Linked DNA regions of Homo sapiens: all the other regions are reported to be linked to region 1. The links are microRNA targets in miRTarBase. Many come from high-throughput screens and were not tested one by one. Region 1 holds a microRNA gene; each other region holds the end of a gene's coding sequence.
Evidence for each region. The annotated mature microRNA hsa-miR-4716-5p reads UCCAUGUUUCCUUCCCCCUUCU and lies in region 1 at 1,751-1,772, shown strand. An mRNA with a match to its seed (bases 2 to 7 or 8) in the 3' UTR can be bound and repressed. Matches are read on the target gene's strand: a 7mer-m8 pairs with bases 2 to 8, a 7mer-A1 pairs with bases 2 to 7 and ends in A, and an 8mer does both.

Region 1 (4,687 bases):
CACTAAACTATTAGTTACTGTGTAGCTAGGGACTGCCAGCAAATTAATTCCCTAAGTGACAGTTCAGAGATTCTCGTGTTTTTGTTTTGTTTTGTTTTAAAGAGGATGCAGACACCAAGAAGGTTTTTGTGTTTGTTTTCAATTAATATTTAGAAAGAAGACTTTTAAAAAGCAGTATCAACTGGCATGCGAGACAAAGAGAGGAGTTCAGTGTGGATATGGGCATTTCTGCTGAAGCCCAGTAGAAAGAGTACACTAATTACAACAAGAAAAGGAAAAGAAGAATCTGCATGGATGAAGAAAAAAACATACAACCCTTCGTAGTAGTCAAGGTAGAATGTGTTTGCGGCGTGATCTTTTTTGCAAGCCCAGCCACGTGTCCTTATAGAATCCCAAGGGTTCCACTTGCTCCCCGGGACCAAAAGCAGCGCCCCAAGGGAGGAGCCAAGTGCTGTGGACCCGATCTACACGTAGCCAACCCAGCAGATCCCAAAGCCCGGCGTCTCCTCTCCCCCACCTAGGATGTTCTGCCACCTGGACCCGACGCGTAGCAGGGCTCTCTGTAGCCATATTTCGCTAGATCCTTCTTTCTCCTGTAGTTTCAAGTGTCTAAGCAAAGCTCCCAGAGCAATCACGAGACTTCTGTGACAGGAGCCGTTTTCTTCCGGGAGATAAACAGCTCCCGCCCTGCGGAAATCCTGCAGCTTCGCTGAGGTGGCTGCTTCCAATCGGCCCCTCCTCTGGCTCCTCCTCCCTGGACTCAGCCAGGGTTCCCTCCAAGCAGCAGTCAGGTACAGCCTCCGTCCTGCTCTTAGCTCCCAGGGAGGGACTAGGGCCTCGCAGGAGCCCCTGCGCAGAGCACGTGCGAAGCTGACTAGTGAGGTTTTCTTTTTGCGCCCTGTGGATGTCAGAGAACAGTGTCATAACCTGGCGCCCTACATACACCTAGTTTCTGATCTGTCTCGGGCTGCGTTTTTTTGTTTGTTTGTTTGTTTTTTAGTTATGGTTTTGGTCTTTATTGTTCAGCAGCTACTCCCCAAACAACACTAAAATGTTTAGCTATTGCTTCTTTGCGGATTACTTCCAAATCAAGCAACATAAAATTGATGTATCACTTGATTTAAATAGATTTGCATTTATTTACAGGTTAGAGGCATTGGTGGGCCTTCCTAGAACACAGTAGTGAAAAGACGGAAACACATGCCTTTTAATGTGCAAGACCCCTTAGCATCCAGTTAAACCTCTTCATTTTTCACTTATCTAGAGAAATCCTAGATGCCCTATCAAAAGTACACTATCCCTAGTACATCACTAACTTTTCCTTCCTTCATAGTTCTCCTATTTGCTTATGTATTTATTGTGTCTCTCACCACCTCCATCATCACTACCACTAGAAAGCAACTGGGGGCAGGCAGATTGGTTTTTAATGAATAGGTAAGATAAACTGAATGAACGACGAAAGGTGAAATGATGTGCCTGAGGTCACAGTGATCATTGGGAACAAAACTGGAATTAAAATTCAGATCTATTAACTCTCAATCTAGTGCACTTTGCACCTCAGAAATATTGAGATTAAACCCAAGCAAAGACAGCTAGCAATAAACCCATTCCAAAGTTTCCTGATTAAGGAAGTTTGAGCCAACATGCCCAACACACTAGGGGTAGTAGCATAACTCAGAGAGATTCGATAAGTTGTATACATCAGTAAGTTACTGCTCCAGAATTTCTATATGTATATGCATACTTTGTCTCCATGTTTCCTTCCCCCTTCTGTATACATGTATACAGGAGGAAGGGGGAAGGAAACATGGAGACAAAGTGTGAATGGACAATAAAGCATAGCCAAAGAGTGGCAGCCCCTTGGCACCCCGTTGGGTTATTACTGTAAATGATACATCAAAGAAACAAAGTTACTCTGGTCTCAGGGCAGCTTTCTCACTATTATTTCAGTCCCTCTTTATCATTTTCAAATGAATGAATTATATCTTCTTGTTTCTGGGCCCCAATAAATCCCAGTTTGATGTTCATTTTGGTTTAATTTTGAGTAACAGGAGTCATCACTGTCACTTGTAAATAGTTTTAATAGGGAGATAACCTAAATTTTAAAAAAAAATGTAAAATGTTTAGGGACATCAGTAAATACAGAAAAGAACAGAATCTTTTTTTTTTTTTTTAGATGGAGTTTCGCTCTTTGTTGCCCAGGCTGGAGTGCAATGGCATGATCTCTGTTCACTACAACCTCCACCTCCCAGGTTCAAACGATTCTCCCGTCTCAGCCTCCCAAGTAGCTGGGAATACAGGCAGCCGCCACCACACCAGCTAATTTTTGTATTTTTAGTAAAGACGGGGTTTCACCATGCTGGGCAGGCTGGTCTCGAGCTCCTGACCTCAGGTGATCAGCCCACCTCGGCCTTCCAAAATTCTGGGATTAAAGGTGTGAGCCACCGTGCCCAGCCCAGAATCATTTTTTATTCAGATGTTTCTAATATATTCTTTTGCATTAGTTGAAAAATAACAAATTTTAAAGTTTTGAATTTTTTTAACAGTCCAAAATAAACTCATTTTATACAGGGTTAAAAAAAAATGACTGTAGAAACTGTTTCGAAAAAGAATACTTCCTACTGAATATGTACTTGATGACCGAACATTAACTTTGCTAAATGAAACCAGATGGCAAATCATTAGTTTGGACCTTGGATACATTGCTATTGCAGTCTCAACAAAACCGATGCAGACTAGAAAGCACCTTACAGAGCAATTAGTAAAGCATCCTTTTTTGAAATGATTGGCACAAAGTAAAACAGGATTAACAGAGCTAGAACTAAAACCTAGGTCTCTAGACTCCTAGCCTAGAGGCCATACTACTTCTGAATATGTGACTTTTGTTGAGACCCCAGTAAACTGTGCTTAAAAATAAATTATTGAAATGATTAGAATCCTTGTCCCAAAATAAAATGTGTACATTATAATTTTCATAAAGGATTACTCTTAAAATAACCTGTCCAAACTACTAGAGAACCCCAAATGGACACCAAAAACAAAACATTACTTTCTTATACTACCTTCCTTATACTAGGCATCTTGCTAAGTAAGCACTTTGCGTATATTATTGTCTCTTTAAACCTTTCCAACAATCCTTATGGGATAGAAAAATATTATTTCCTTTTCAATTTCAAGAAGATATTCCTTTAGTTCTTATTAGACATATCTAATAGTGAAAACATTTAAACATTTGGCTGGGCACAGTGGCTCATGCCTATAATCCCAGCACTTTGGGAGGCCAAGGTGGGCAGATCACCTGAGGTCAGGAGTTCGAGAACGGCCTGGCCAACATGGTGAAACCCCATCTCTACTAAAACTACAAAAATATAGCCAGGTGTGGTGGCGGGCGCCTGTAATCCCAGCAGCTTGGGAGGCTGAGGCGGGAGAATCGCTTGAACCCAGGAGATGGAGATTGAGTAAGCCAAAATCACGCCACTGCACTCCAGCCTGGGCAACCAAGAGCGAAACTCCATCTCAAAAAAAAAGAAAAGAAAATATTTAAACATTTATATTTTACAGTATTTTTATTTTCACAAATCCTGAACCTCTGGTTCTTTGCTTTTTGCAAGTAGGCACTCTTACAATAGGTTTAGAATCTGAATTATAAACTAATAAATGGTATATTATGATGGAGTCTTAAACAGAAACCTAATTAATAAACTTGAAATTGTTTCTCCTCAAAGGATATTAGTCTCCATTCAGATAAAATATTATAGCAAACTAAACAAAAACAAAACAAACACTAAAATGAAAGAATACAAAAACTTGATCCAAAATATGAGTTAAAGCATGGGTGTTAGAGACTTACAGACCTGGCTAGTGCCTATTGATGTTTCTCAGCTTAGAAATCACTTCCTTCAGGAAGTTTTCCATGTTCTCTACCCAAAACTAAATGTCTAAGACCACAGAGGGATTGACCATTTATCTGAAATAATGTTATTTCTGTGGTTTAATCTGTTTGTGCAACCTCTGGAAAATATTTCCTATTTTGACTTACAATAAAAACTATTGTTCACAATTGGGAGAATCTACTTCAGTGACCTATTTTGGATATTTTCTCATTATAGTAAATAATATGTAATACTTGTTTATGTCTTCTTTATAATGATGTTACATTCCTTCTTTTTTGTTGTTGTTGTTGAGACCAAGTCTCGCTCTTGTTGCCCAGGCTGGAGTGCAATGGCGCGATCTCGGCTCACTGCAACCTCCGCCTTCCGGGTTCAAGTGATTCTCCTGCCTCAGCCTCCCGAGTAGCTGGGATTACAGGTGCCTGCCACTTAATTTTTGTATTTTTAGTAGAGATGGGGTTTCAACATGTTGGCCAGGCTGGTCTCAAACTCCTGAACTGAGGCCATCCACCTGCCTCGGCCTCCCAAAGTGCTGAGATTACAGGCGTGAGCTACTGCACCCGGCCCCTTATTCTTCTGTTCATAAAATAGATACTGCTCTCTAGTGTATATAATCATTAAATGGCAAAAGATAAACTCATGAATCAGAGAAATCTATATTTATGTAGTTATGGAGGAAATAAAAATTGTGCAAAAATGCTTTAACCGAACATAGATTGTTTTGCAGAGTGAAAAACAAAGCAAAACAAAACGAAGACTCTAAGCACCCTCTGCTTGCCCAGTCATACAAAGCATCA
Region 2 (4,687 bases), not on the chromosome of region 1:
CCTAGAATAGCCAAAAGGCCTTTACAAATGAAGAATGAAGGTGGAAGATTTATAATACCTGACTTCAAGACTTGCTGTAAAGCTTCTGTAATCAGGCTGTACTGTCCTCAAGGTACTAGAGTGTCCACAGACTGGAGTGTAGGGACGCGATCACCATCACTCCTGGGCTGAAGCAATTTGCTGACCTCAGCCTCCCAAGTAGTGAAGACCACAGGCACACACCACCACACACGGCTAATTTTTTTTTTTTTTTGAGAGATGGGGTCTCACTATGTTGTCTAGGCTGGTCTCAAGTTCCTGGGCTTAAGCAATCCTCCTGCCTCGGCCTCCCTCAGTGCTGGGATGACAGGTGTGAGCCACCTCACCAAGCCCCACTGGATTGCTGATATTCTGGCATCTTGGACCTCCAAGAGCAGAGAGAGGGACTGCCCCTGCCAGAGCCAGCCAGTTGTTAGAGCTAGCAAATGACCCCTCTGAGAGTGTCCCTTTTTTTTTCTGAAACAGTCTCACTCTGCTGCCAGGCTGGAGTGCAGTGGCACGGTCTCGGCTCACTGCAACCTCCACCCCTGGGTTCAAGCGATTCTCCTGCCTCAGCCTCCCAAGTTGCTGGGATTACAAGTGCGTGCCACCATGCCCAACTAATTTTTGTATTTTTAATAGAGACGGGGTTTCACCACGTTGGCCAAGATGGTCTCCATCTCCTGACCTTGTGATCTGCCCACCTCGGCCTCCCAAAGTGCTGGGATTACAGGCTTGAGCCACGGCTCCTGGCTGAGTGTGCCTTTCATATGCAAACCAGCTAATCCAGGGCCCCAACACTGAACCAGCTCTTCTAGCTGCCTCTCACCCTTCAGAAGGCAGTATTTCTCTGCCTTCATCATCCTGGGCCAGACACCAAATAACAAATGACAGCCTCTAATCCCCAGAGCCTGCTAACGTTATTCTAACTAGCCAATCCTAAACCTGCATACCCTTCCTTGCCTTTTCCAGGGAAAGCATAACAAAGGGTCTCACCCCTGTGTTCCCTTGGCTTCCTCTACTCCCTGAGGGACCCTGGTGCTTTCCCAAGTGGCCCTGCATGGCTGTGTCTCTCGTTTCTGGGGATCTGTGAGGATACACTGCTTCCCTTATGACCCTCATTTCCATGGCCATACCTGATGGAAAGAAATGGCAGGTGCATTTTGTTTTATTATTATTATTATTTTGAGACGGAGTCTCACTCTGTCGCCCAGGCTGCAGTGCAGTGGCACCATCTCGGCTCACTGCAACCTCTGCCTCCCAGGTTCAAGCGATTCTCCTGCCTCAGCCTCCCGAGTAACTGGGACTACAGGTGCCCACCACTATGCTCACCTAATTTTTGTAGTTTTAGCAGAGATGGGGTTTCACCATGTTGGCCAGGCTGGTCTTGAACTCCTTACCTCAGGTGATCCACCTGCCTAGGCCTCCCAAAGTTGCTGAGATTACAGGCATGAACCACCGCGCCCTGCCAGCAGGTGCATTTGATTTATTTTTATTTTTTGAGACGGAGTCTCGCTCTGTCACCCAGGCTGGAGTGCAATGGTACAATCTCGGCTCACTGCAACTTCCACTTCCTGAGTTCAAGTGATTCTCCTGCCTCAGCCTCCTGAGTAGCTGGGATTACAGGCACGTGCCACCATGCCCGCCCGGCTACTTTTTGTATTTTTAGTAGAGATGGAGCTTTGCTATGTTGTTCAGGCTGGTCTCGACCTCCTGACCTTGTGATCTGCCTGCCTCAGCCTCCCAAAGTGCTGGGATTACAGGTGTGAGACACTGTGCCTGGCCCAGCAGGCGCATTTTAAAAGAGCTTTTAACTCTCTGGACAATCCCAGGAGGTAGGCAGCATCTCTGTATGGTCCTCAATTTATACAGAAAGAAACGGAGGCCCTGAGGGTGGTTCTGAGCCTAGCCTGAGGTCACATGGCCCAGGAACGTCCACTGTGGCATCAGGTCTGAGCTTGGGGCCTGTGCGGCCAACCACTTCCCCATTCAGTGACATCAGCCAGCAGTCCTCTGGGCCTCTGTGACAACCATGCTTCCCTTTTCTGTGTTGTCTTCCTTCTGCACAGGGAGGTGCTTGAGGGCTGGGGCACTGGCTGGTGTAGCTTTGGGTCCTTGTCACCCAGTGCAGTGTGCCTGTCACCCAGGGCAGTTAGTGCTGACCAAATGCGTATGGAGAGGGTGGAGGCATCTTCAAGGGGTGGGGATCAGGTGACGATCATTTTCAGTAGAGATGGGGTTTCACCGTATTGGCCAGGTTTTTTGTTTTGTCTTTTTTTTTTGAGACAGGCTCTCTCTCTGTCACCCAGGCTGGAGTACAGTGGTGCAATCACAACTCACTGCAGCCTCAGTTGCCACCTGAGGGCTCAATTGATTCTCCCACCTCAGCCTCAAAATGTGCTGGGATTACAGTCATGAGCCACTGTGCCTGGCCCAATCATGCCTTTATAATGAAGCCCATAAAAACCCAAAAGGGATGCAGAGGGCTTCTGGATAACTGAACTCATGGAGCTTCCTAGAGGGTGCAGTGCCTAGAGAAGACACGGAAGCTTTGCACCCCTTCCCCCAGGCCTCCCTCTGTGTATCTCTTATATCTGGCTGTTCATAACTATCCTTTGTAATATCCTATATCTTTATTTTGAGACGGGGTCTCGCTATGTTGCCCAGGTTGGTCTCAAACTCCTGTGCTCAAGTGAACCTCCCCCCTCAACCTCCTGAAGCACAGAGATTACAGGCATGAGCCATGGCGCCAGGCCCTATAATATCCTTTATAAGGGGACACATGTAAGTAAAGGGCTTCCCTGAGTTCTAGGTACCATTCTAGAAAATTAATTGAACCCAAGGAGGGGATCATGGGAACCTCAATTTTTATAGCCCTGTGTCAGAAGCACAGGCACCACGTGAGCTTGCGACTGGCATCTGATGCTGGGGCAGCCTTGTGGAACTGAGCCCTCAACCCGTGCGATCACAGGAAGCAGCCAATTTGCTGTAGTAGCCGTGGCCAACACACTGTCTCTGACAGTGTTCTTGCCCCTGCCCACTCCTTCTTAACGATTCCCTCTCAGCCAGGCATGGTGGCTCACGCCTGTAATTGCAGCTATTTGGGAGACTGAGGCTGGAGGATTGCTTGAGCCCAGGAGTTTGAGACCAGCCTGGACAACTTGGTGAAACTCCAGTACCACTAAAAAATACAAACATTAGCTGAGTGTGGGGGTGCACGCCTGTAATCCCAACTACTTGGGAGGCTGAGGCATGAGAATGGCTTGAACCCAGGAGGCAGAGGTTGCAGTGAGCAGAGATTGCGCCACTGCACTCCAGCCTGGGTGATGAGAGTGAGGCTCTGTCTCAAAAAAAAAAAAAAAAAAAAAAAAAGATTTCCCTTCTTAAACTTGCTTCCAACTGCTTTAAATCTGTGAGTGCCATCTGTTTCTAGTGGGGAGGCTCCCTGCATCATGACTGGACTCAGGTACTGCAGAGCAGGAAGGGGCACTTGGCAGCCATGTGGGAGATGCACAGGGAAGTGTCAGCAGCATTTCACGCTATTTATTCCCCAAAACCTTCTGCCATAGAAGACAGCCACCATACAGATTGGAAAATGTGGACGAGGAGAAAAGGGGTGTATGGTAAGCAAAATAAATTGTATTTTTCCATCCTTGGGGAGGATAAAGGAACTCTTTGCACTGCTATAATAAACAGCCCCCAAATGCCAGTGGTTTAATTCAGTGGAGTTCAGACCTCATTCCTATATCATTGCAGTGTGGATGCTCCTGGATGAAGGCTCTTGTAGGTAACTCTCCTCCAGTCGGTGATTCAGGGACCCAGCCTCCTTCTGCCTTGCGGCTTTGCCTTTTAAAGGTCCTCAGGGTGCTCTCCATGTATCTTGCCAATGGGGAACGAGTGTGGAGGACTCACAAGCGGGTCTCACATCACGTCCTCCGGGGCTAATACACATCCCTTCTCCCCACACTCTGTTGGTCAGAAGTCACTGCTTGGCGCCCTGCTACCTGCAGGAGGGGAAGTGTTTTTAGATGCAGGGCCAGGATTATTAGTGAGGCAGGCGAGGCAGTTGCTTCAGAGATCAGATTTAAGTGGGAGGTGGCAAAAACTCAGGAGAATTTGTGGCAGGCTGGGCTTGTGGGGTTCTTAGCAGCACAGTCCCTGATTTCCAAACCCGTCCCCTGCCCGCACCTGTACTCCCCACTCCCTTGGGGAGGCCCAGCACTCAGCTGGCTGGGGTTGTGGCTTTAGTCCGCTGCTGACGTGTAGGGGGACCAACAGTGAGTCAGGGTGGCATCCAGGTGATAGCAGTCTCCATCCCACCTTCTCTGCTGCGCCCTAGGCTGAGGCCCTCCTTAGAGGGACCAGAGCAGCAGATCAGCTCTGCCCAAACCCATCAGGAAGGGCCTGGGACTCAGCTGGCACCCTGAGGCTCCCCCCCGACCTGTTCTCCCTGTTGTCCACCACGTCATCTCCTGAAACCGCCCCCGCAAAACCTTGCTACCCTCTGTTGGCTTCCTTCGCTCTTGAGCTCTCTGCTCAGCCCCAACCTGGCTCCCTCTATCGCTGAGCCCTCGCCCACCCATCTCTTCCTTCCCTCCCCTTCCCTTGACATAGGCACCCCCACCTCTCCCTCCAGGTCCTCAGGGAGACCGCGCCTGTGGTTTCCTTC
Region 3 (4,687 bases), not on the chromosome of region 1:
TCTGCCACATCAAGAGTCTGGTTTGTTTTCTTAACTGAAAACGAAATGCAGTCATTAAAGTATATCTTTGGGAAGAGGTTTTGAAATGTTGAGAATTACTTCTACAAGCTGCACTATTTTCAATTTCACTAAAAATAAAATTTAGCATTTTTGTTACAAAAACATAGTTCATCCTATTTCTTTTAACCTAGTTATTACATGAAAAATTGTTTATCATCTGTAACTTGCTAAGAATATGGTTTCTTGAAAACCTTAAATGGACTAATAATGAAAAACTATTAAAATATATATAGTGATGGGCCCCTCCTAGTTACCAGACCACCCTAGTGTAAATATATTCAAGTACACATTCACTGTTGCTGTTTAATTTAAAACATATAGTAACTCTATGTATATCCTAGCCTCCAACTCTTTATGAGTTTCACAACTTCCTTTCATAGAGAAGTCTGCCAAGCCATTAATCAATAAAAAGAGTAAAAGCTGCAACATCTAGGAAATTTCTTATTATATGAGAGTAGCCAGTAAAATGTGTCTCAGTGCTTTCTACCTTTTATCTCTATTTATAAATTTAAGTTTCAGGATATCAATAAAGCTCATACATGGCTTTGGCTTTTTTCATTCCTAAGCTTTCCAAAGTATAAGGCTTTTTTTTTTTTTAAATCCCTTTTGTCTTTAGCGCATTTCCTATGGCCCAACGTAGCTGTTTTATTCCAAAGCTTTTCAAAGAGCAGCTCCAGGTCTTGAGAGTCTTTCCAGTGTCGTCACTATCTTCTCTTTCCAATCTACCATTGCAGAATGGCTGGTTCTGCTGCTAGTTGAAAAATAAACAAATGCTTTCTAGCCGTACTTTGTTCAGCTCTTTTATCTGTGTCCCCTATCCAGTTGCCCTTTCCGCAGTCCCTGGCACTTCTATTTTATACCATCAGTTGCCTTTTTGTTCCATGTCTTTTATCTCCTGAAGTTCAGGCAAACCCCAACCCCAAACCCACACATCCTTTAGTCACATTGCCATTAGTGATTAAAACAATAGCCATTCTAAGCTTGCTTTAGAAAATTAAAAAAGGCCTCAGAAAATGTTCAGTGCTCCCAATTTTATTTTTATTTAATGCTAAAAGTTAAAGAAAAAAAGGTACTGTAAATCTGACAAATGACAGAATTCAGGTGATATTTCCATAGCGTGATTTTAAAATATAATAATGTTGGTATCTGAGATTACACTCACTTCAGTTGACATGAGTTTCATCATATATAGAAAAAGTATCACCTTCAACTTAAAAAAAGTAAAGGTTAAAAGGTGGCACACTTTTAAAATACTTGGTGGCCAAGGAAAGGTATATAGTAAAAGTTGTAAACCATGTGTATGTTCTCATAACTTTAAATGTGAGGCCACATGAAAGACAGTACATCTGTTAAATTCTATAAATTGTTAAAAGCAAAAAAGGGAAAGCTTCAACACCCCATCCCCTAATATTTTGAGTATTAAAAGCACAGCTGAAATATTAGGATTTGAAATCTGATACTGCCCATGTACAGTAAGTAGCTTTGTGACATTTTTATCCAGCTGTGGAGAATCTCTGCACTGTCATCAGGTACAACAAAAGATCAAACCCATGTCCCGATGTTAACTTTTTAACTTAAAAGAATGCCAGAAAACCCAGATCAACACTTTCCAGCTACGAGCCGTCCACAAAGGCCACCCAAAGGCCAGTCAGACTCGTGCAGATCTTATTTTTTAATAGTAGTAACCACAATACACAGCTCTTTAAAGCTGTTCATATTCTTCCCCCATTAAACACCAGTACAGAGAAACCACAGGTTGCCCTTTCCACAGCTGGATAGACTTATCCAAAACGGCAGGATGGTTCTGTATTAATCTTTTTGGAAAGCATGTCTGTATTAAGATTGCAAAACATACAGATAGCTACCACAAATTAGGTCAAACGACTGATCAAGTTGTAACATCTGTGAGGTCAAATTCCAAAGTGCCTAGATACACATTTATACAACAGACCATAAGAGCTGAATTCTTTACAAATGTCTTTATGGGCATGTAAAATTGACTCTGCATTTCTGCATGTGTGCATTCACATAAGAGAGACCAGTCTGCACTGAGTCATATATACTCCAACTTGAAAAAGTAAGTGTAACAACTGGTTAATCATGCAAGTCTGTTTGTAATATAACAATGACTGGTAAAACATGAATTCTCGCACAGTAGTAATAGGTGCACTCATTAAAAACACTACGGAAAAACACTGTATTTGGTGCAGTATCTGATTTTCAAGTGTTAGTAACTTGACCATTAAAAAATAGTTTTGAACAATTTAAAAAGGAAAGACAAACATATAACTAAAAAAGAATCCAAAGTTGGTAAAAATCTGTATTTTCAAATGTAAATAGAAGCTAGGCTGTGAACCATACACATAAATTGTAGACCTTGAAGCCATAATTCAGCCTAATTATAAGGCCAAGTTACAAACACCTGAACGTAAGGATTTAAAATAGTGTTCCTGTCAATGTTAAATCATAACAGCACAAAAGAAAAACCAGTATCACTGTGAGACAACTATTTCTAATAATTGATGATTTATTGGTTTTAAAAAAATCATTTTACTGATGCAAAATAGTGATCAAAAGAAATTAGTTTACAAAAAGACTTCTAAAAATATTTTGAGAGGTGGGGCCTGTCTATTATATAAAACCCTTAATTTCTTTAATTTCCACTAGTTTATCATTTTTTTCCAGAACAGTATTATTCACTTGGTATTTCAAACACATGTTAAGAAGGAAATTACAGGTTTCCTCCACCCACATTTGGGCTGTCACTGATATGCCCAAGGGCAGTCCTGGCAGCACCACGCGGCTGTTACTGTCATTGTACCATACTGTATTCAGCACTCACTAGAAACAGGGTATAGGTGATAGTATCAACAGCAATAGCACTACAGGTAAATGATAAACAAAACAAAACAGAAACAAAACCAATCCCACAATCTCCAAGTTCACCTGGACTGTAACTTCTCTTGCAACTCTTTCAAAATAAAGGACAACAGCAACAACAAACAGACCTCTAGGGTGTTTAAAAAGATGAAGTGGCGCTGCAGAGCTGGGCTCTGCTCAAAGATGGCAGTGCCATCTTGTACACACCACCATCCATTATAACCGCCTTCCATCACTGGAATTGTATCTTATGTAACCAACTAGCATGCAGCATTGTAATCTTACAACTGATCACGTGGACAGTGAACAGCGGTCAACTTTGTCTTAAAAAAAAAAAAACAAAAAACCCCAAAAGACCACACAATCCTGAAAATTTCCCAGCAGCACTCTCAGTCATCAGTATCTCAGGAACTGAACTTTTGAGCAAAATAGAGATTCAAAATCCACTTTCCTACTCCTCTGAGGACAATGTTTCAGGGTAAACTGGTGGTATTTCCCAGTGGCATGCCCACTTGACAACATGCCCGTTCGATCATTTCCTTTCCTTCTCCACCACTTGGCCTCCGGCCTGAGAAAGGGGCCAGCAATAAGGAATGACAGACAGTAAGGCAATCTTACAATGTCAGAAAATGTATTTGGCTTTTTTTTTCTTTTTAAAATAAGTGCATACAAATACAGCTAGAAGCATTTCTGATTTGCCAAGTGCTCTAAAAAAGCAGCGCAAGTCACAGCCTACATAGAACGGTAACTGTCACCAGGATAATAAAGCACAAAGATATGCTAATAACGTTAACAAAAGAAAAAAATGTCTTTATAAGTACATACCTTTTGTCGTCAAAAAAAATATAGAAACACAATGTATTCAAAAAAAATCAAAATTATACAGCCATGTTTATGAAGTCTACATTTCCCTTGTCTTGGATATATATATATATGGAGATATATATACAATTCAAGCAGTTTTAATTAAGGGTAATCATTGGGTTTTTCTGAAACCGGAAAAGTCACGAGTCTCTCTCTTTTTTCACTTTCACATCTCCAGCAAGGATGGTTGCAATTTCCCCTTGCATAAAGGCCCAGGGGACATTGGAGCCCACAAGAGGGCATTTTTCCCCACTGGGACAATAGACCTCTCCACTAGCTCCCTGCTGTTTGATGCTTTGTCTGGAGCAAGGGAAGCAGAACTTGTGCGAAGGGACGGACGGGCACTGCACAAAATGGGTGTCCTCCAGCCGCTCGTGGCAGAGGGTGCAGCACAGCGGGGCACTGGTTGCCAGAGAGGAGTCCGGGAGGCTGGCAGGGTGCACTGGCTCCAGTCCTCCTGTGTTGCCTGCTCCCTGGCCCCCCACCTCTCTGGGGCCCAGCCTTCTTTGGTTCATAGAGGACGGAGAGGGCGGACTGTTGCTATTCCTCCTGGTAGTGGAGTGAACCTGGTTGGCATCTTTTGAGGCATGACTGCCCCCTGCATTGTCTGCTACTAAGATCAGGGCTGCCATGGGGGACTGGCCATTCTGGGCCGCTTCAGGCGGTGTGGTCCGGTTGGAATGAGGTGAGGCAGTGGGTGGTGGCGGAGACACAAAAGAGGATGTAGGAGTCATGGGGATCTTGAGCCCCTCTGTGGATGTGGACAGCCACGGCTGGGCCTCTCCGTTGATCTTAGGGGGCCCGACTTCACCTTCTGGTTCTGGAGAGGGCTTCCTTTTCCTTGCTGTTCTTGCAACTGGAAACACAAAGAAATAAAAGGAAA
Region 4 (4,687 bases), not on the chromosome of region 1:
GTAACAGGTAAAGTAGCCACAAGAGATCTGGGACAATAGACAGGATTAAATTATGTAGATATGCAAGGGAATCAATAGAAAAGAAATGTAAGCCTGTTATGAAATTCAAACATAAATAGTCCTTCTCTGAAAGTGCAGAGAATATCCAATTTTGTCTTTCTGACAACTTCTTTAGAAATCCTATTAATGTTACTTTCAGAAATTCTATGCCAGACTGACCTTATATACAAACACAATTTTAAAATTCTTTTTAAAGTAACAGGGAAAAGAGAGAGAAACTATGGTATCACTTAATAAAGCACCAATATCAAAGTGAAAAATAAGTTGGCATTTTAAACCCACATTTGCTTTATTCATCAACATTTTTTAAAGGAACAACTCTAATGATAGGTTATTCCTAATCGAAGCTCCGGGTGTCTTGTTAAAAATACAGCAACCACAGCAAATTGAAAGCCCTCACCATGTTGCACTGTCCGATGTATTCCTTTCCACAGATTGCATGTGCCCTGGGGATCATTTCCAGCCTGCAGCGTTCAGAGGACCATGCCACTTCCCATCTAAATAAAGAGTGGCTGGAGGACAGTTCATGTGGCCAGTCCACTCCATAAGGACTCTCTTCTATCCCATGCCTTCCTGTTCACACTTACTGGAGAGACTTAAATGTTCCTTTAAATCAGGGTTTACTGCACTGCAATGACTATGGATAAATGGAACTTCTCAGGCAGCAGGGTGCCAATCTGTAGTCTTATCAATGCATAAAACTGGAAGAGGGGAAAAAGGCATACAATGGAACATAAAGGCCAAATAACTGCTCTCTTCTGCTTAGCAATGATTTTGTAGTGGATTGGGAAATATAAATATTAGTTGCATGATATAAACTGTGATACGGCCTCAAAGTTTCTCTCCAAAATAGATATTTAAAGAGAAATAATGCTGTGCTTGTATATTTAATGCTACCTACCTCGGTGGATGAAAAGTCATAAATATTTAGATGTAATGCCTCTAGAACCCCAACCATGAGTATACATATAGATACTTCTTGAAACTCTCCCTTGAGACTATAAATTTGTCAATGAATCCCACAAATGGCTCTAAGAATGTTTAAACATGGGAGATAGAGTAGATTCCAAGAATAGAACATTAAAGTTACTGTATACCTCAAATCATAATCTCTACAAATAAAACAAAAATTTTTAGTCAGTTCCACAGGAAGGTTATTACCAAGGCGGGTAATTACAAACTATATACCTCTAGAGAAACCATGTCTCCCAAAAGGCACATGATCATGATTTTCATTTGAAATAATAATTTCATGTAAAAATAGGTGAGGGAAGAAAGACACACAGACGAATGATAGAGATCTGTTAACTTCTCAGCTAGCCATTTGTGGATTCTTTCAAATTAGAGTTTGTGTACCTGTAACTAGGAAGCATATTTACATGAGGCACCTTATATTCAAATCTATAAACTCTTTTATAGTCAAAATAAACCTTATAGCATTAGCCTTTTGTACACTCAGTACCAGGAAACATTCAGTGCACGTTACAGTGATCTTGGTAAAAAGTCACTTTATTTGCTACATCTTTCAATCTGTCTGCCCTTCTGTTCTTGGCTTGAGCTATGTGGCAACACTGCCCAACACTCACCCAAACCTTGGCCTGATGGATCGCTTTATGGTCATATCAACAATCACATCCCTTCCTGTCATGAAAAATGCTGTTTTACATTATGTAATTTTGGATCATTAAATTGCTTTCCAAACATTTCAAAGACTTTCAAAAGAGAGGTCCATTACAGAAGACATAAACACACAGTATAAAATGCTGCCTTCTAACTCGGCCCTTCAGTTTGGGCATGATATGTAATCAAATTGATTACATATGAAGATGATATGGATTTTGTCCATGGATACTATGGGAGAGGATCAAATTTAAGAGAGTATATCTGAAAACCTGTCTGCAGATTCCATTCCTCTTAAGAACACACAGCAAATGAGGAAATCAGAAGTATACTTCAGAGCAGACCATGTGATTGAGCCCATCAATCTCCAGCCTCACTAGGGTAGCTAGCTTTCTTTTGGAATGACAGATCTGCCATTATAACAGCTATCAAACTTTGGTTTTAAAGAAGGGTCTTTTAAAATAGAATCTTATTTTCCTATGGATTAAAAATATATGTTTCAAAGCATCAGATTCTTTCCCCCACCAGCTGTTAGTGTAACTTCGCAGATGCTGCATCTCTGTGGTTTAGATCTAACTTAACCCTTTATGAATGGTTGAAGCTGCTCAACTCAAACAGTAGAATCTTCCGTCATCTTGCTTCAGAGTCAGTGCAGAATGACTTGTTGGGATTCACATCCCAGTGATGACAAATATTCTTAATCAACAGTGTCAAAGTTGTTTTTGTTAAAACAAGTCATTCATTTCACAGATAAGGGTGACTACAAAGTTTTGCCAAGGAACAAAACTTCAGGCCACAAAGGGTTAGAGTATTGGCAAACCAGAAGCTACCAGCTCACTGGCAGTACGTTGTCTCATGTGTCTTTGGTGCACTTGCTTAATCTCAGCAGCACACACTGCTGAGGGGCTGGCTCACTGGGATGAGATGGGATGGACGGATGGGATAGATGATTTCCAGGGAGCAGCCCATCGGCAGCAGAGTGGGCTCCTGCATCAGCAAACTGTGGAGGCCAGAAGTTTTGCTGGGCATTTTGTTCTCTCACTCAACTACTCACTCAATAAAACTGCCTCCAGACTGTGCACAGGTTAAAGGGATATCACATGTTTTGGACAAATACGAATTATGGAGAGACACATTTACAGCATTGACCACTATATTTACATTACCTGCTTATAGTCTTTGAAGATCACTGGATGGATGACGATGATGTGATTGTGACGGAATTTTTAGGCATTTGGCAAAATACACTTGTGTGTAACAGCTGCATTTTTTTAAAATTTTAAAAATGTTACATATATACAATTGTCCTTGTATGCTAATATAAATATGAAAAGTAAAAAACAAAACAAAAATAAAAATACATGTTTAAAGTTAGCCTATGGGATATTGGCCTTTCAAAGCTTTAAAGTCCTGCAGAAAAATCCTATATGCCTTAGCCCTGCATGCTCATTTCTATTATGGGATGTTGTTTCCTTAAATATGGAAAACAATAAACAGAAGCTTCATGCATATAGCATTACTGTTTACAGTGAGGATGTGCCTCAGAACGTCAAGTTCTGAATCCACTATTGTACCTTAGGAAACTTGCTACATTTGGGTCATGTGAGTTAACTTTATGAATATTTCTACATATTATCTGTCATGCGGATTATCCATTAACATACCAGTACCTTTATTGTTCCATGTTATAGTGTAATATTTCAGTAGTTCTTTTCATGGTTAGTTAAATCCTAAGCCAATGACAAAAAGAAAATGGTAACCAGATGTGAAACTCCGCTTCCTCTCCTCTGTAGCATCTCAGAGGGTCTTCGTATTGTCTGAAGAGCAGATAGATTTGCAGTGATTCCATGAGCCTGGGTTTCTATAAAAGTTGAAGTAAACAGTTTTCGATGTATCACATGTAAACAGTTGATCTTAAATGGATGTCTCCCATAGCTGCACAACAGAAAAGAGCAAAATTGCACATTGTGAAAGCAGGAAGCAGATGTATTCTGAATAGGAGATGAAAAAGATTCAGTGATTCCATCCATATATATGTGATTGTGGATGCACACTCTTGCAAAGTCTAAAAAGTGGATAGAATAAACACTCCAACTTTTAGCTCTCTGTTTCCTCAAAACCTGTGTCTCAACCTTTTTAACAGCAGCCATCTTTTGATACAAAAACCATCACATCCTCATTTAATGTTACTAAACATTTTGAATAGAGTCAATATTGTGTCTCAAATGAAATAAAAGAATTTAAAATATTATTTTTTAAGCTACACATGCCCTTCCTTTCCCCAGGATTCTGAGACAGCCAGCTAGAGCAGTGGTTCTCAACCTCAGCTGCACATTACATTAATCTGGGGAGGTTTCTACAATTCCACTTCCCAGGCACCACACCAGACCAACTAAATCAAAATCTCTCTGGGTGGGACTCAGGCGTAAGAATATTTTAAAAGCTTTGCAGATGATTCCCTTGTGCAGCCACGACAGAAAACCACTGACATCAGGGAAGTGTGATTCCATCAATTCCACCATCACCCACTTGAAAATCACTGCCATACACTCCACTTCTATCACTACCTCCTTAAAAAATAGTTCTCTCAGCCGGGCGTGGTGGCTCACGCCTGTAATCCCAGCACTTTGGGAGGCCGAGATGGGCAGATCACGAGGTCAGGAGATCGAGACCATCCTGCATAACACGGTGAAACCCCGTCTTTACTAAAAATACAAAAAAAATTAGCCGGGCGTGGTGGCGGGCACCTGTAGTCCCAGCTACTCGGGAGGCTGAGGCAGGAGAATGGCGTGAACCCGGGAGGCGGAGCTTGCAGTGAGCCGAGATCGCGACATTGCACTATAGCCTGGGCGACTGAGCGAGACTCCATCTCAAATAAAATAAAATAAAATAAAATAAATAAAAGGTTCTCTCTCACAAGCTGAGGTATCACAGTGGAAGGATACATTCAAGGCAGGATGTCCCTTCATTCATTCTGTCCCTCTTACCCTCTCCTTGCTTTTGCCAT
Region 5 (4,000 bases), not on the chromosome of region 1:
TTTTCTGAATTTCACTTCCTGTTTCTATTCCACTTATAGTCATTTATGATTTATTTGGGCCTTCCCCACAGGTGACAGTTCCTTCTTTCTTCGAACCTGGCTCATGACCCCACTTCACATTCCTGAAACTCCAGCAGAATATCGCTATAACATGGCCCATTCTGCAACTCACAGTGTGATTGAGAAGACTTTCCGAACCCTCTGCTCCCGATTCCGCTGCCTGGATGGATCCAAGGGGGCACTGCAGTACTCACCAGAGAAATCCAGCCATATCATCTTGGCCTGTTGTGTCCTCCACAACATCTCCCTGGAGCATGGGATGGATGTTTGGTCCTCTCCAATGACAGGACCCATGGAACAGCCCCCGGAAGAGGAGTATGAGCACATGGAGTCCCTGGACTTAGAGGCTGACCGTATTCGTCAGGAGCTAATGCTCACTCATTTTAGCTAATGTAGAAGGTGGAGAGGAGGGATACTTCCCAGGAGTTGTGACAGACTTTCCTCCTCATCACCTTTTACACAGTTCCATCATCTAGCATGACTGAGTATACAGATACTTGTCATAAACTGACATTTAATATGTGTGTTTTGGTAAGGTTGGGGCTATGCCAGAATATCTTGATTCATTTGCATATGCATTAATTAAACTGAAACCAAGACAGCGGCTCCCTACTATCCAGTGAACTCTAGGTTGAGTACCACTAATTTGAAAGCTCAGTGGTTGCAAACATTTATGACTGTGCCTACAAAGTCATAGTAAAGGTCAGGAGTTCAAGACAAGACCAGCCTGGCCAACATGGTGAAACCCCGTCTCTACTAAAAATACAAAAATTAGCGGCCGGGTGCGGTGGCTCACGCCTGTAATCCCAGCACTTTGGGAGGCCGAGGCGGGCGGATCACCTGAGTTCAGGAGTTAAGACCAGCCTGGGCAACATGGCAAGACCCTGTCTCTACTAAAAATACAAAAAAATTAGCTGGGCGTGGTGACAGGTGCCTGTAATCCCAGCTACTCGGTAGGCTGAGGCAGGAGAATCACTTGAACCAGGGAGGCGGAGGTTGTGGTGAGCCGAGATCGTGCCATTGCACTCCAGCCTAGGCAAGAAGAGCGAAACTCCGTCTCAAAAAAAAAAAAAAAAAAAAATTAGCCGGGCGTGGTGGTACATGCCTGAAATCCCAGCTACTCGGGATGCTGAGGCAGGAGAATCGCTTGAACCTGGGAGTCGGAGGTTGCACTGAGCCAAGATCATGCCACTGCACTCCAGCCTGAGTGACAGAGCAAGGCTTTCTCCAAAAAAACAAACAAACAAACAAAAAAAAAACTCATAGTAAAGGGGAAAACAGCATATAGTCAAAACACTTTTTTGGTTTCAATTATCTGCAGATTTCAGATGAAAACAGTATTTACATAGGCCGGGTGTGGTGGCTTACGCCTATAATCCCATAATCCCAGCACGTTGGGAGGCCGAGGTGGGCAGATCACCTGAGGTCGGGAGTTCGACACCAGCCTGACCAAGCCTGAGCAACATGGTGAAACCCCGTCTCTACTAAAAAATACAAAAATTATCCGGGCGTGGTGGCACGCGCCTGTAATCCCAGCTACTCAGGAGGCTGAGGCAGGAGAATCACTTGAACACAGGAAGCAGAGGTTGCAGCGAGCCGAGATTGTGCCATCGCACTCCAGCCTGGGCAACCGAGCGAGACTCTGTCTCAAAAAAAAAAAAGAAAGAAAACAATATTTACTTGTTCTGGATTATTTGGGTGGTATTTTAGTTTTTCTACTTTGCTGCCTATATAGGCATAATCTGAGGCAAATGTGAAGAGAGAATTTCAGTTGGGGAATGATCTTCTGACATTAGTAAATGGCTACTAATCTCAGTTTGCAGCTTTGTGCTTTTAAGAGGATGTTAAAGACAGTCAGAAACCTCCATCTTTAGCCTGTCTGCAATAATTGGACTGTGACTTGGACCTAGATCCTAGGGAGAACATCTGGACTCCAGTTTCCTATTTCCAACCCTGACTCGGAGTTAGAGGCTAAATGGGTTTGAGAACCCAATCAGCTTAAAAAAGGCAATTCGAATATAGATAAAATAGCAAGCTTATGCTTTACAGGCGTTCTAAGGACTGAGAGAGATTGATGAGCAATGCAGATTCACCCAGGTTCAGACACCTCACATTCAACTAGATCACATTTCTTATAATTGTGATGTTAGAAAGTCTGGTCATTCTGTTTTGAAATTCGTTGTACAAAAGGAAGATTCAGGGAATAAAGAAGGCATGTGAAAGTATTACAAAGGAGAGGTAATAGGAATATAATTTCTTGGCTTGAAATGAATTCTGGTGCTAGACCTTGGATATGCAGAGTGATGGACAGAATTTCCTAAGAAATAAATAATCCCCTAGCAAGTCTTGTTCTAAAATTACACTGATATAAAAATAACCTGATTAGAATAATGAAAGTGTGAATTAGGTTCACACATTGGTGCCTTTGCTGGGACAAAAAAGAGACTTTCCTGAGGGTTGTCTTGTTCCAGTTTCTCAGCCACTCACCATGTGATACCTCTGACTTGTCCTCTTGGATCATTTCCTACCTCTTGCCTTTGGCAGTGTTAATCTGGTGATTTTCAAAGTAAAGAAATGAACAGCTGATGACAGAAGAAATTTGGAAATAAATTGAGGGTGACTCATCCTCAAGATTAAAAACAATTATGGATTATTATCTGCTGTTTTATTTCTACTCCAAATGCTATTCACCATCATTATCCTGCTCTATAAAGAGTGGGTCCATTTGGCAGAAGATTGTGCTTAATATGCACAGGGATGTCATTGAGGTGGGAATGGACAACGAAGAGTTGGCTAGAAACATTAACTCTATTCATTGTGCAACAGAGGTGCCCGGTTAACATTTTTTTCTTTGTAAAGTTCAACTTGTTTCCCTCATAAGGCAATGTTTTAATTCTTAAGGTCTTTCCTTTTTAAGTCTTCTAAGATGGGTATTTTCCCCATAAAGTTTTGGTTCTGTTTGGTAGATCGCATCAGGAAAGGGTTACTGCCCAACATGTATCATAAGTGGCAAGGTGAAGTGTGATCATGGAAAATGCCTTGCATTTTAGCCTTGTATAACTATATTTAAGGAAAATTGGAGTTTTTCACAACTTAACTCACTAGATGGTGACATAAAAGACTGAGTGGGATGGACAGTCTTGGAGAGATTTCAAAAGCAATTTCAAGTCTGTTTACTTGCACACCAAAGATAATCTAAGTGCTGAGCTGGCTGAACATTGGCTGACAGTGTTTTTCCCTGGGAGCATTTTATTTTCTAATAATCCCACAGGGAAACTCTTCAGATCTACACCTTTAACCTCCTTTCAACCTGTGGTTTTGCAGGCCAGGATTTTTTTTTTTCTTTTGTCATTGGTTAGTTATTTCCCCAAAATGATGGAGGGGAAGGATCAGGGTCTGTACTTCCAAATTGCCAAGGGTGTCCTCACAGGGGCTTTTTATAAGCGTCTGAGAAAGCTGCTCCCTTTGTGGTCCTTAGTGTGGATTTATAGCTTTTTTCTGGCATGGTTTTGGGAAAGAGTCAAGGATTTTGTCTGTCTTACGTAAGCCTCATTTTCCCATAGATAACTCCATCTGGCCAGCATAGTAGTTTTCCAGATTTACCCTTAGATGTTTCAAGGCAGTAAGGTCTCAGGATATATCAAGGGAAAACAATATTGGGTGATCACCAATTTACCAATTCCAGATTATACAAAAGAGGGACCATAAACATATTCTTGGTTTAAGTTAACTGAATAGGGATGAAGCTGTTTTCCTGATCCTAGGACTGTGAAGGATCTAGACCAAGTTAATCTAACTTAGGGATAAAAAACAAGACACAATTTTAGTGGAGTCATGTAGTGAAGACATAGAAGAAGTGGGTAACGGTGAAAGAGGCTAGACAGATCATAGATATAATAAGATTTTATCTGTATCTGAAACAAACGGAAAATAGCCCAAA
Region 6 (4,687 bases), not on the chromosome of region 1:
CTCCCCAGCCATGCAATCTTTCCCACCAGGATCCCTTCACCCACATGTGCCCCGTGCTAAGCCAAGTCTGCTTCCCCGGCTAGGAAAGGGTTCCTAGCCATGCCCCTCCTGCAGCCAAGCTCTCCTCACCCAACGTGCCCTCTGCCCCAGTCTGTGCTCCTTTTTCCAGGCAGGCCTCCTTCCACAGCCTTCGCCTGCCTAGGCCCCTTGTCCAGCCTATTGCCCCTACCCCAGCCAGACCCCATTCCTATCCTGTGTGCCCCTCTACAACTAAGCCCGTTTTCTCAACCACGTGCCCTTCCTCAGCCAAGTTCCTGTCAGGGGGAGAGGCCCTCATTCCCAGGCATGATTTCTTTCCTAGCAAGCTCTCTCCACCTGGTAGGCCCCCTCTCCCAGCCGGGCCCACTAACCTGCCTATGATCCCATCTCTAGCCTATGTCCTTCTCGGTATTCAAACCTTTCCCACCACCAGGTTCCCTTTCCTAGTCTGTGCCTCCCTCCCCAGCCCCTTCCGCTGTCAGAGTCGCTCTCCAGTTAGGCAACCTTTCCCTAAGGGGTCTTTTTACCCCACAATCCTCCCTACCCCACACCCATCTGTCTTCCATAGATTGTGCCAGCCTCTCAAGACTGTGGTCCCTTTACAAGACAGGCACATCCCCATGTCTGGGACCCTTCCTCAGTCTCGCCCTCTCCGCCAATCTATGTCCTTCTCCCCGAGTCTATGTCCTCCTCCCCAGCTTATGCTTACTTTCCTGCTAGATCTCCTTCCCTGGTCCAGTGCCTTCTCCAGCCTGGACTCCACTGGACAGCCCATGTCCCCTCCGCCGGCCAGGCGTTCTTCCCCAGCCTTTCCTCTCATTAACAGCTAGGAACACCTTTCTCATCCTTTGGCTCCTAACTCAACTGGGCCTCCTTCCCTTGACCAGCCAGTTCTTCCCTAACCTGCTCCCCCCACCCCCGCTCACCCTATTATGTCCCTCCCAGCCAGGCTTCCTTCCCCACCCCGTGTCCCAGTCCACAGCCAGGTTCCCTTGCCCAGCCTTGTCCCCTTCCTCTGCCAGTGCCTCCCTAGCCTGTTACCTCTTCCCCAAGATCTTCCTCCTTGCCCTGCCAAGGCCACTCCCATGCTTGGCCCCTTTGGTCACCTAAGCCTGCATCATCAGCCGGGCCACCTTTCCCAGCCAGCATTCCCCCACCCTTGCAGCCAGGTCCCCCCTCCCCCCATCCCAGCCAGGCTTCCTTCTTCAATGACCCCTCCACACCATATGGCACTTCTTCAGCCTGTGTGCCCTCCCCAGTGAGGCTCCCTTCCCTATCCAGGCCCAATTTCCCAATTCCCTTCAATTCCCCTGGCCAGGCAGTTTGCCAGAGCCATTTCCCCATTCAATAGCCAAAGACCCGTTGCTACGAGGCATCTTGTCCCTTTGAGTTGCCCCCTGGTCAGCCTATTCCTCCTTGTATAGACAGTGACTCTTTCTTGACCCAGCCCCCTTTCCTGCCCTTCTCTCCACCCAACTCCACCCCTGCCAGGACCCCTTCCCCAGACTGTAGCCCAGTTCCCAAACAGCTTCCCTTCCCAAGCCAGGCCCCCTTCCTCTCCTTCTCCAGCCTGCCCCAGCTGGGCCACCTTCTCCTACCAGGAACCCTTCACCAGTCCATGCCCCAGCCTCCAGCCTGGACCCTTTGCAGGCATCCTCCCTCAGCCAGGACTTCTTTCCTAGCCTGTGCCCCCGCTACCCAGCTGGGCCTCTTTGTCCATGAAGGTCCCCTACCCTAGCCAGGCCTCTTCTTTTAGCTTGTCACCCCCTTCCCTGACCCTATGCAGCCCACTGAAGTAGAGCACCTTTCCCATTTCTAGAGCCCTTCAGCAGTCTTTGCCCCTGTCCCCAGTCAGCAACCACCACCCCGCCACCCGCAACAGGCCTATGCTCCCTAACCCTCCAGGATTCCTTTGCTTAAGTAGATCCTGGGATATAAACTCTATATGAAGTTAGCTACACAAAAACAGAGAAGCAGGTATTTTTTAAATGGTTTTTATTTTTGAACAAACTACATGTTTAAAAACTTTCAAAAACATATATATTTTATCTTAGAGCATTTGGAATGTAGAAAGAATTTCCAAAATTAATCTCACTGAATTACAGAAAGTAAAGATTAAAATTTTCATAAGTTGTTGACTGTAAATCATTTCATTTTATATTCTTTTGGAAAATTCAAGGATATTAACAAGTCTCAAATAACAAAAGTATATTGTTCACTTTTGATGTAACAAAATAGAATAAAACTTTAATATTTTAAAGAATCTTTTTAGATATTTCTGTATCTCTAAGAAATAAGGAAAGTTGTTACATTCATATCTTTCACACTTCATACCAGATGATATAACAAGGTCAATCAAGTACTTGAATAAATTCATACACCTTTATATCTCTAAGAATAAAGGAAACTTACTCGATTCAGATCTTCACCCCTTAGAGTAAGTAAATTACCTATCAATGTGTCTCTTTTTTCTTTATACCAGTTGTAAAGATAATGAAACGTATCAACTATTTGAATAAAGTCCTATCTCTTCCTACCTTTAGTAAAGGAAATTAAGTTCAGATCTTTCACATCTTAGAGTAAACCTTATCTAGCCTATCAGTTTATCTAAATTTACTTTATCTATTTAACAGATTTACCTTACATGTTTTAACAAATGCTGTTATTTAGAATTAGCAAACATGGGAGAAACTAAAATTAATTAGGAACCACACAAGTTTTGATGAAAAGAAAACAAAACAAAGTACTAGCGGATCTCTTGTTCATAACTTGAGACATCTCCTGAGTAGTCTAGCTTAAGTAAATAGCAAACCATGGCAATCTTTCCCCCCAAAACTCAGCAAAAGGCCTTCACAAGGCATTTTGATCACATAAACTCCAATTTTGTCTAAGTAATCCAAGACATTCATAGGAAAACCTGAAGACTCCCCGAGCTAGTCTACTAGATTTATTTTTCCCAGAACACATGAAACTTAACATTTCCTTTTTTTCTTTTTTTTTTTTTGGAGACGGAGTCTCGCTGTCTTCCATGCTGGAGTGCAGTAGTACGATCCCGGCCCACTGCAGCCTCCGCCTCCCGGGTTCAGTTGATTCTCCTGCCTCAGCACCCCAAGTAGCTAGGATTACAGGCCCCCGCCAACCTGCCTGGCTAATTTTTCATTTTTTTGAGACGGAGTCTCACTGTCTTCCACGCTGGAGTGCAAAGGCACGATCTCGGCTCACTGCAACCTCCGCTTCCCGTCAAGCGATTCTCCTGCCTTAGCCTCCCGAGTATCTGGGACTACAGGTGCCTGCCACCACGCCCGGCTAATTTTTGTATTTTTTGTAGAGGTGGGGTTTCACCATGTTGGCCAGGCTGGTCTCGAACTCCTGACCTCGTGATCCGCCCGCCTCGGCCTCCCAAAGTGCTGGGATTACAGGCGTGAGCCACCGCGCCCGGCCAATATTTCCATTTTTGTGGTGAAGTTATACGCAACATGACCAAATCTTAGTTGGTGAGGGAGGTAAAAGACCCTTAAGGGCAAGAAGAGGTTAGAACTTTCAAATTTATGCCCCTCTGGTGGTGCAATGCAGAGATTTCCCTCATATTTCCGGGGAATTTCCCTCGAATTTCGTTTCCCACCCTGTGAAAGCAGCAAGGTTAGGAAAGCGGGGGCGGGGCGGGGGCGGGTAGTTTTGATTAAAAGGAAGGAAAAGAAAAACAGAGAAAAGCAAAAGGGGAAAATAAACTGAGCCTACTGAGGAGATGCGGCGACGGCGACAGTTTCCCGGGGCTGCTCAGCGCCTTGGGGCCTACAGGAGACGCGGGAGCACGCCCCCGGCGGCGCCGGCCTCGAGCGGTGTCACGGAGTTGTAGTGCTCGCCGAGGCTGTAGGCATAGCGCAGGTAGACCAGGATGATCGGCTTCTTGACGTACTCCTCCCCGATGATCAAGGTGGGCGAGTCGGCCTGGATCACCTCGATGGGGGTCTTCAGGACGTGCGACAGGGCCCTCAGCTCCAGCTGGCCTCCCCATGCCGTGGTGCGCACGATGTTGTCGCAGTAGATCATGAAGTCGTCGTAGCCGAAGGAGTCGCTGGTCTCGGGGTTGCTGAAGAAGGGCAGGAACTCGTCGACGTGCTTCTTCATGTAGCTGGCGGTGCGGCAGCGCAGCATCTCCACAGACACGCTGAACACCAGCTGGTCTTGGATGGCGCGGTACATGCAGTGGCCGTCGGCCGGGATCGCTTTCATCTCCAGACCCCTGGCTCCCAGGATGGCGGCGAGCTTCTCCTCCTCCTCGCGCTTGAAGCCGGCCAGGTGCTCCGACATCTCAGCCTGGAAGATGCTCTCCTGGCGCTCCCTCTCCTCGGACTCCATTCTTTCTCTCTTTCTGTGGGCTTTGGAGGAGCGGGGAGGCCGGTTTTCCAGATTCATCTTGGCCAGGTCTTCGACGACAGATTCAATGCTACTGTCGTCTTGGAACTTCTCCAGCTCCTGCCGGTGCTTCTGAGCCATCTCGGCCTCCATGCGGGCCACGTCTTGGAGCAACTGCTTTCTTTTCGTCTTGTCGGTCTTGGGGACCGAGTTTTTTAAGCTCCGGATCTGGGCCTGCAGCTCCTGCCTCTCGCGTTGGTGGCGGCGCAGTATGCGCTGCTGTTCACTCTTC
Region 7 (4,687 bases), not on the chromosome of region 1:
CCAGAGTGCTGAATTACAGGCATGAGCCACTATGCCCAGCCACTTTTAACAGTTTTGTTAAAAACAGGTTTCTAGAGAGCTCTCTCGAGTTCCCTTGGAGTGTGGTAAACATATGGAGGCCCACATGAAGGGTGGGGATATTCCATCCTCCAACCTCTCCCTCTTTAGCGCCACCTTTCTCTGTTTAGAATTCAAGTTCAAGGAGGGCAAGGGGTTTTGTTTTATTCACTACTGTTCCTAGACCAGAGCCTGACACTATTTATGTGTCATTAATATGTATATAATGAACCAAATAAATAATAAATGAATAATTTAATATTGGGTCACAGGTAAGATTCCAATTATCAAAAGAATTTTTGTTTTAGAAACAATGTTTAAGAACCACTGGCATAGATAATTCAAGTGGAAATATTCCTGGGGGCATAGTATGTGGAGGGCTAGGTTTTCTTTAAGATTTAGCAAAATCTCAGAATAAGTAAGAGCGTCCATTCCATTTAGCATGAGTCCAGTGAGCATCTCAGTGCATGGCATGGTAAACACACAGTGTGATAGATAACACAATGGCAGTCTCTGAAAGGGGAACCTGGATCAAAAAGCCCAGTATCACGTCATTCTTTGCTGATAAATGAGGTTGTCAAAGCGGTCATACACTTGAGTCTTTATAAAAGAAAGAAATAACAAGAATAAAACCTGTTCTATAATGGTACTCTTTTGTATGTACCTATGGGTGGCCAAAGAAACAATGATTGATGACTGGTCCTGCATTCACTGCCTAAAATAAAGTGCTTTAGTTTCTGGTTGAAAATGAGGAATGTCAATGCAAAACAAGAGAACACAGAATGCATATTCAATTCTACTGAAGAAACATCTTTCAACTTTGCCAAAAATGGCAAAAAAAAAAAAAAAAAAAAAATTTCTTAGAAAACAAAGACAGGCATAGAGTTTATGCATAAAGATTTTCTTTTAAAAAAAGACACGCTTCATATAGCAAGAGCAATACAAAGGGGTTATATAAATTTATTTTTCATGTAACAATTGATTCAGTTAGAAAAATTTCCCATTTTCAATGTTAATTCCATCTCTCGTTTTTGGAAAAAAATCACTAAAAGGACAAAAACCCACAGAAAAATACAATCTGTATCTGTTCTATATTTACAGATAACCAGTCATTATTAAGGCGCAGATTAAAAGTTAACATTTATTCAAATCATCAAAATATTTTGTGCATCATATAACAACAACTCTGTATACTGTAGTGTCATATTCCCTTCATTGCATCAAGAGAAAGTGAGAGAAAGAATTTCCAGTGTTTTTATTTATTTTTAGCCACCCTACTTAATCTAATTTAAGTGGGACAGTTTTCCCTTTGGCATATCAAAGCACTGTTCATAAATCAACTTAATACTGCATATTCATTACATCTTCCTCCTGTTGCAAATGCATGGTAGACAGCTGGGAAAAGAGCTCCAAGATTATTATCTGGGAAGGTCTTATTAAAAGCATAACAACATTTAGAGTACTGAGTTGTTGAACAGGACATAAATCTGGTATTGTTAACCTGTACTACATGTTTAGCATGATGCATTAATACAATCAAATAAGATGGATGATCATCACATGATCCACATGACCATTTGTACACATATGCACAGGATGAGTAAAGGGAGTGATTCAGTTCAACATCCTTAAGCAGATAAGGCTTAGTTTAGCTTAAAAAGGGCAGTCCCTCGGTGCCAGTTATAATTGATAATTTTATGACAGGCCCATTATCTATGCCTTCAAGGTAACCAATACCATTTTTTAAAGTGAGAATGTTTCTGTGTGCAAAATGCCTCTTCAATTCTTGTTCTTACTGTAATGGTCAGACTCAGCCATGGAAAAGTGTCAGGCAAGTATTTCTTATCCCATATTTGTATAAAAGTACCCAATTCTTGTATATGCTTATCTAATGCCTTCTGCTGAGAGCACGTGAGAGTGGTTTATGTCCATGTAGAAAATCTTGACTACTGAACATAAATAACTCTTTACAGTACAGGTAACTTGACAACATTTCCTATGGGAAAGTTTTCTAACAAATTAATATACTTGGAAATAATATTGCTTTGAAGAAAGAAAGGCACTTTAGTGTTTCTTCATGGATTAAAAACACTTCATAAATCTATAAGATCTCTGAAAAGACCCAGGAAACAATGTTGCCTGATTTCTTGGACTTTCACAGTATAAGATTGTAATAATGACTCTAGCCACTTAAAAAGATATATTTTTTTTTTCCTTCAGAACTTAGCTGTCTTTATGAACTGCCACCCTGGAGGCTCAAATAAGCCTGTTCATTCTCAACAAACATAAGTCTACTTCAAGCAGACAGATACGGTTTCAGGAAAGTCCTGTGGCCATACGGAACATAGCTAACGTGTACATGATAAGGATTGTAATCTATTTCTCCTTATAATGGCAACAGTGCTGTCTTGTCAGATGATTATTTGTCTTTTTAAATAAAGTGACAATCTCGGGCTCCAGTTATTGAATGTCGTCCATTCTCTACCATAAATCTCTAGTAAATATCAATTTCATCAATTATGTACTGTATGCTTATAATATCTAAAAATAAAAGTTTGATATAAATAAATGTCCTTTAGTGGCAATATACTAAAAAACAGCCCTTTGCCTCCAGACAACCATTAAAATCATTTTAGCATTACAGGCAGCAGCTAAGTATGACGACTGCAAAGGGTTAATACTGCAAAGTCCATTTGGTCTTTCTTTGCACCTATTACTGTGAACTAGGTCCATTGCTAGGTGTTTCTAGGATGCTAACATACATGAAACAGAATTGGTCCAGAAGCAAGTGGACTCACTTACATTTCCCAAAATCACAGAATATTCTGCACAGAAACTAAGATCCAGTACCATTTCAAATAAAAGTTTGATGCAGTCAGAAAAATGTGACTAACTCTTATCTGTACCAACATATTAGGTGACACAAAAATGAGAGAGATGGAGACAGCGAGAACTTCCATAGGACAAGAAATTAGAACGTGTAAAGTGCTGAAAGACCACAATAATTATTTTAAAGCAGTACCAGAAAATTCCACTTTGATTATTTTTTAAAAATCCCCAAATACCCAAACAAAACAAGCAAACAAAATAACTTCTAAGTCTTCTGGCATCCCAGATGTCAATTCATCCTTCATTTTAAGTAAAAAAAAAAAAAAAAAAAAAAAAAAAAAAATCATCAGTGCATATGTTATATAGGTAAATAAAAACAGGAAATAAAGCCCTATCCTTATATTGCAAATTCTGTCCAACTGCCATTTTAAAAAAGTAATCCATATTTGGTGTTCTGTATGACATCATAAGAACATCTTCTCTCTCTTCTTCCTTTTTGCCATAAAGTACAGGTGCGAATAAAATGCTTTGGTCCTGATACCAGACACCCAGAGTGCTAAGGATGGTGTGCTGTGAAGGCTGTTCATACATCTCCTGTGTCCACTTTACAGTTAGTCAGCGGGCATGTGCCAAGAGGGTGCTGCTACCAGCGGCCACTGACACTAGCAATGTCTGAGTGATACTGACGGGGTAGCCTTCCACTCGCTCCACCTTCCAGGAAAGAGGTGCGTGCATTTGGCGATTCAAAAAGCTTTCTTCGGTTTTTATTTAGTTCTAGAGAGAGAAAGAGAGAATTGTTAGGAGCTCAAGAGAAGTTCTATGTATACTACAGGACATGGCACTAGAGCTCAGAAAATGGTGACGTGGTAGGTTTTTTGAGGAAAGTCAAGTCTGGTATCAAAAGGAAAACTTTTAGTTGATGGTCAAGGCATTTCTGAAATACTAGAAAGTATGGTATTAAAGATAGCATATTGATAGTCTAGAGAACAAAGGACAGCAAATAGTTTTTGTTGCAACTCATAAACTCCTGACAGCAAACAGTTTCTATTATAGTTTGTAAACTGTATTGGAGGATATACCATTCTCAGAACGCTCTAACCAAATTAAATAGTTTGACCTACTCCAAAGGTCATTTCAGAGGCAAGGAGAACAAGCTAAGCTCGTGAAAGGACGTATGACTGATGGCACAGAAAATTATTACAGCTACTGAACTCATTCATGTCAAACATGGCAATCATTTAGTTTTATTAAAGTCAGATATGAAAAAGAAGACCCCATACCTAAGCACAGGGATATTGGAGGAGCACCCTGAAGAACAGCTGACCCTTGAATAATGCAGAGGTTGAGGTACCAAACCCCTCCTGCTCCCATGTAGTCAAAAATCCATGTATAACTTTTGACTCCCCCAAAACTTTACTAACGGCCTACTGTTGCCCAGCAGCCTTACCAGTAAGTTGATTAACACATGTTCTGTATGTTATATGTATTTTATACTACATGTTTACAATAAACTCAGCCAGAGAAAATACTAAGATAATCATTAGGAAGAGAAAATATATTTACTTATTCATTAAGTGCAAGTGAATCATCAGAAAGTCTTCATCCCTGTTGTCTTCACGTTGAGTAGGTTGAGAAGGAGGAGGAGAAGGGGTTGCTCTTGCTGTTTCAGGCATAGTAGAGGCTCAATAGGTAGTGGTGGTGGAAGGAGAGGCAGGCACATTTGGTGTAACTTTACAAAAATACATCATAATTTCTGTCTGCCATTTTTGCTTTTTTCATTTCTTTAAAAATGTTTCTATAT

Region 2: miRTarBase lists PILRB as a target of hsa-miR-4716-5p. Seed matches in the 3' UTR shown: 7mer-A1 at 3,889-3,895.
Region 3: the mRNA of IRF2BP2 is a reported target of hsa-miR-4716-5p. Seed matches in the 3' UTR shown: 7mer-m8 at 3,827-3,833.
Region 4: the mRNA of ADAM22 is a reported target of hsa-miR-4716-5p. Seed matches in the 3' UTR shown: 8mer at 3,360-3,367 and 7mer-m8 at 460-466.
Region 5: miRTarBase lists HARBI1 as a target of hsa-miR-4716-5p. Seed matches in the 3' UTR shown: 7mer-m8 at 794-800 and 7mer-m8 at 931-937.
Region 6: miRTarBase lists OTUD6A as a target of hsa-miR-4716-5p. Seed matches in the 3' UTR shown: 7mer-m8 at 3,381-3,387.
Region 7: the mRNA of BICC1 is a reported target of hsa-miR-4716-5p. Seed matches in the 3' UTR shown: 7mer-A1 at 1,985-1,991.

What each region holds. Positions count from the first base shown.
Region 1 is chr15:49,166,206-49,170,892 of GRCh38, reverse strand. It overlaps MIR4716 (microRNA 4716), which reads left to right and starts at 1,740; the gene lies at 1,740-1,823. It overlaps GALK2 (galactokinase 2), which reads right to left and starts at 646. Exons shown (of 10, transcript NM_002044.4): 1 at 518-646. The coding sequence starts at 570. RefSeq lists enhancers at 459-698, 330-1,234.
Region 2 is chr7:100,366,684-100,371,370 of GRCh38, reverse strand. It overlaps PILRB (paired immunoglobin like type 2 receptor beta), which reads right to left. Exons shown (of 4, transcript NM_178238.4): 4 at 3,540-4,022. The coding sequence ends at 3,994. It overlaps STAG3L5P-PVRIG2P-PILRB (STAG3L5P-PVRIG2P-PILRB readthrough), which reads right to left. Exons shown (of 17, transcript NR_036570.1): 17 at 3,540-4,022. It also overlaps a transcript of PILRA not described here. Among named protein-coding and RNA genes, the nearest start is that of PILRA, 4.5 kb to the left of the region's middle. RefSeq lists enhancers at 216-967, 4,577-4,656.
Region 3 is chr1:234,603,193-234,607,879 of GRCh38, forward strand. IRF2BP2 (interferon regulatory factor 2 binding protein 2) reads right to left here. Exons shown (of 2, transcript NM_182972.3): 2 at 1,077-4,660. The coding sequence ends at 3,945. Among named protein-coding and RNA genes, the nearest start is that of IRF2BP2, 4.6 kb to the right of the region's middle.
Region 4 is chr7:88,195,399-88,200,085 of GRCh38, reverse strand. ADAM22 (ADAM metallopeptidase domain 22) reads right to left here. Exons shown (of 32, transcript NM_001324418.2): 32 at 1-3,615. The coding sequence ends at 3,595. Among named protein-coding and RNA genes, the nearest start is that of SRI-AS1, 19 kb to the left of the region's middle.
Region 5 is chr11:46,599,981-46,603,980 of GRCh38, reverse strand. HARBI1 (harbinger transposase derived 1) reads left to right here. Exons shown (of 3, transcript NM_173811.4): 3 at 72-1,120. The coding sequence ends at 451. Among named protein-coding and RNA genes, the nearest start is that of AMBRA1, 8.0 kb to the right of the region's middle.
Region 6 is chrX:70,062,536-70,067,222 of GRCh38, reverse strand. It overlaps OTUD6A (OTU deubiquitinase 6A), which reads right to left. Exons shown (of 1, transcript NM_207320.3): 1 at 3,044-4,687. The coding sequence ends at 3,832. Among named protein-coding and RNA genes, the nearest start is that of OTUD6A, 2.4 kb to the right of the region's middle.
Region 7 is chr10:58,827,734-58,832,420 of GRCh38, reverse strand. It overlaps BICC1 (BicC family RNA binding protein 1), which reads right to left. Exons shown (of 21, transcript NM_001080512.3): 21 at 986-3,660. The coding sequence ends at 3,530. Among named protein-coding and RNA genes, the nearest start is that of LINC00844, 170 kb to the left of the region's middle.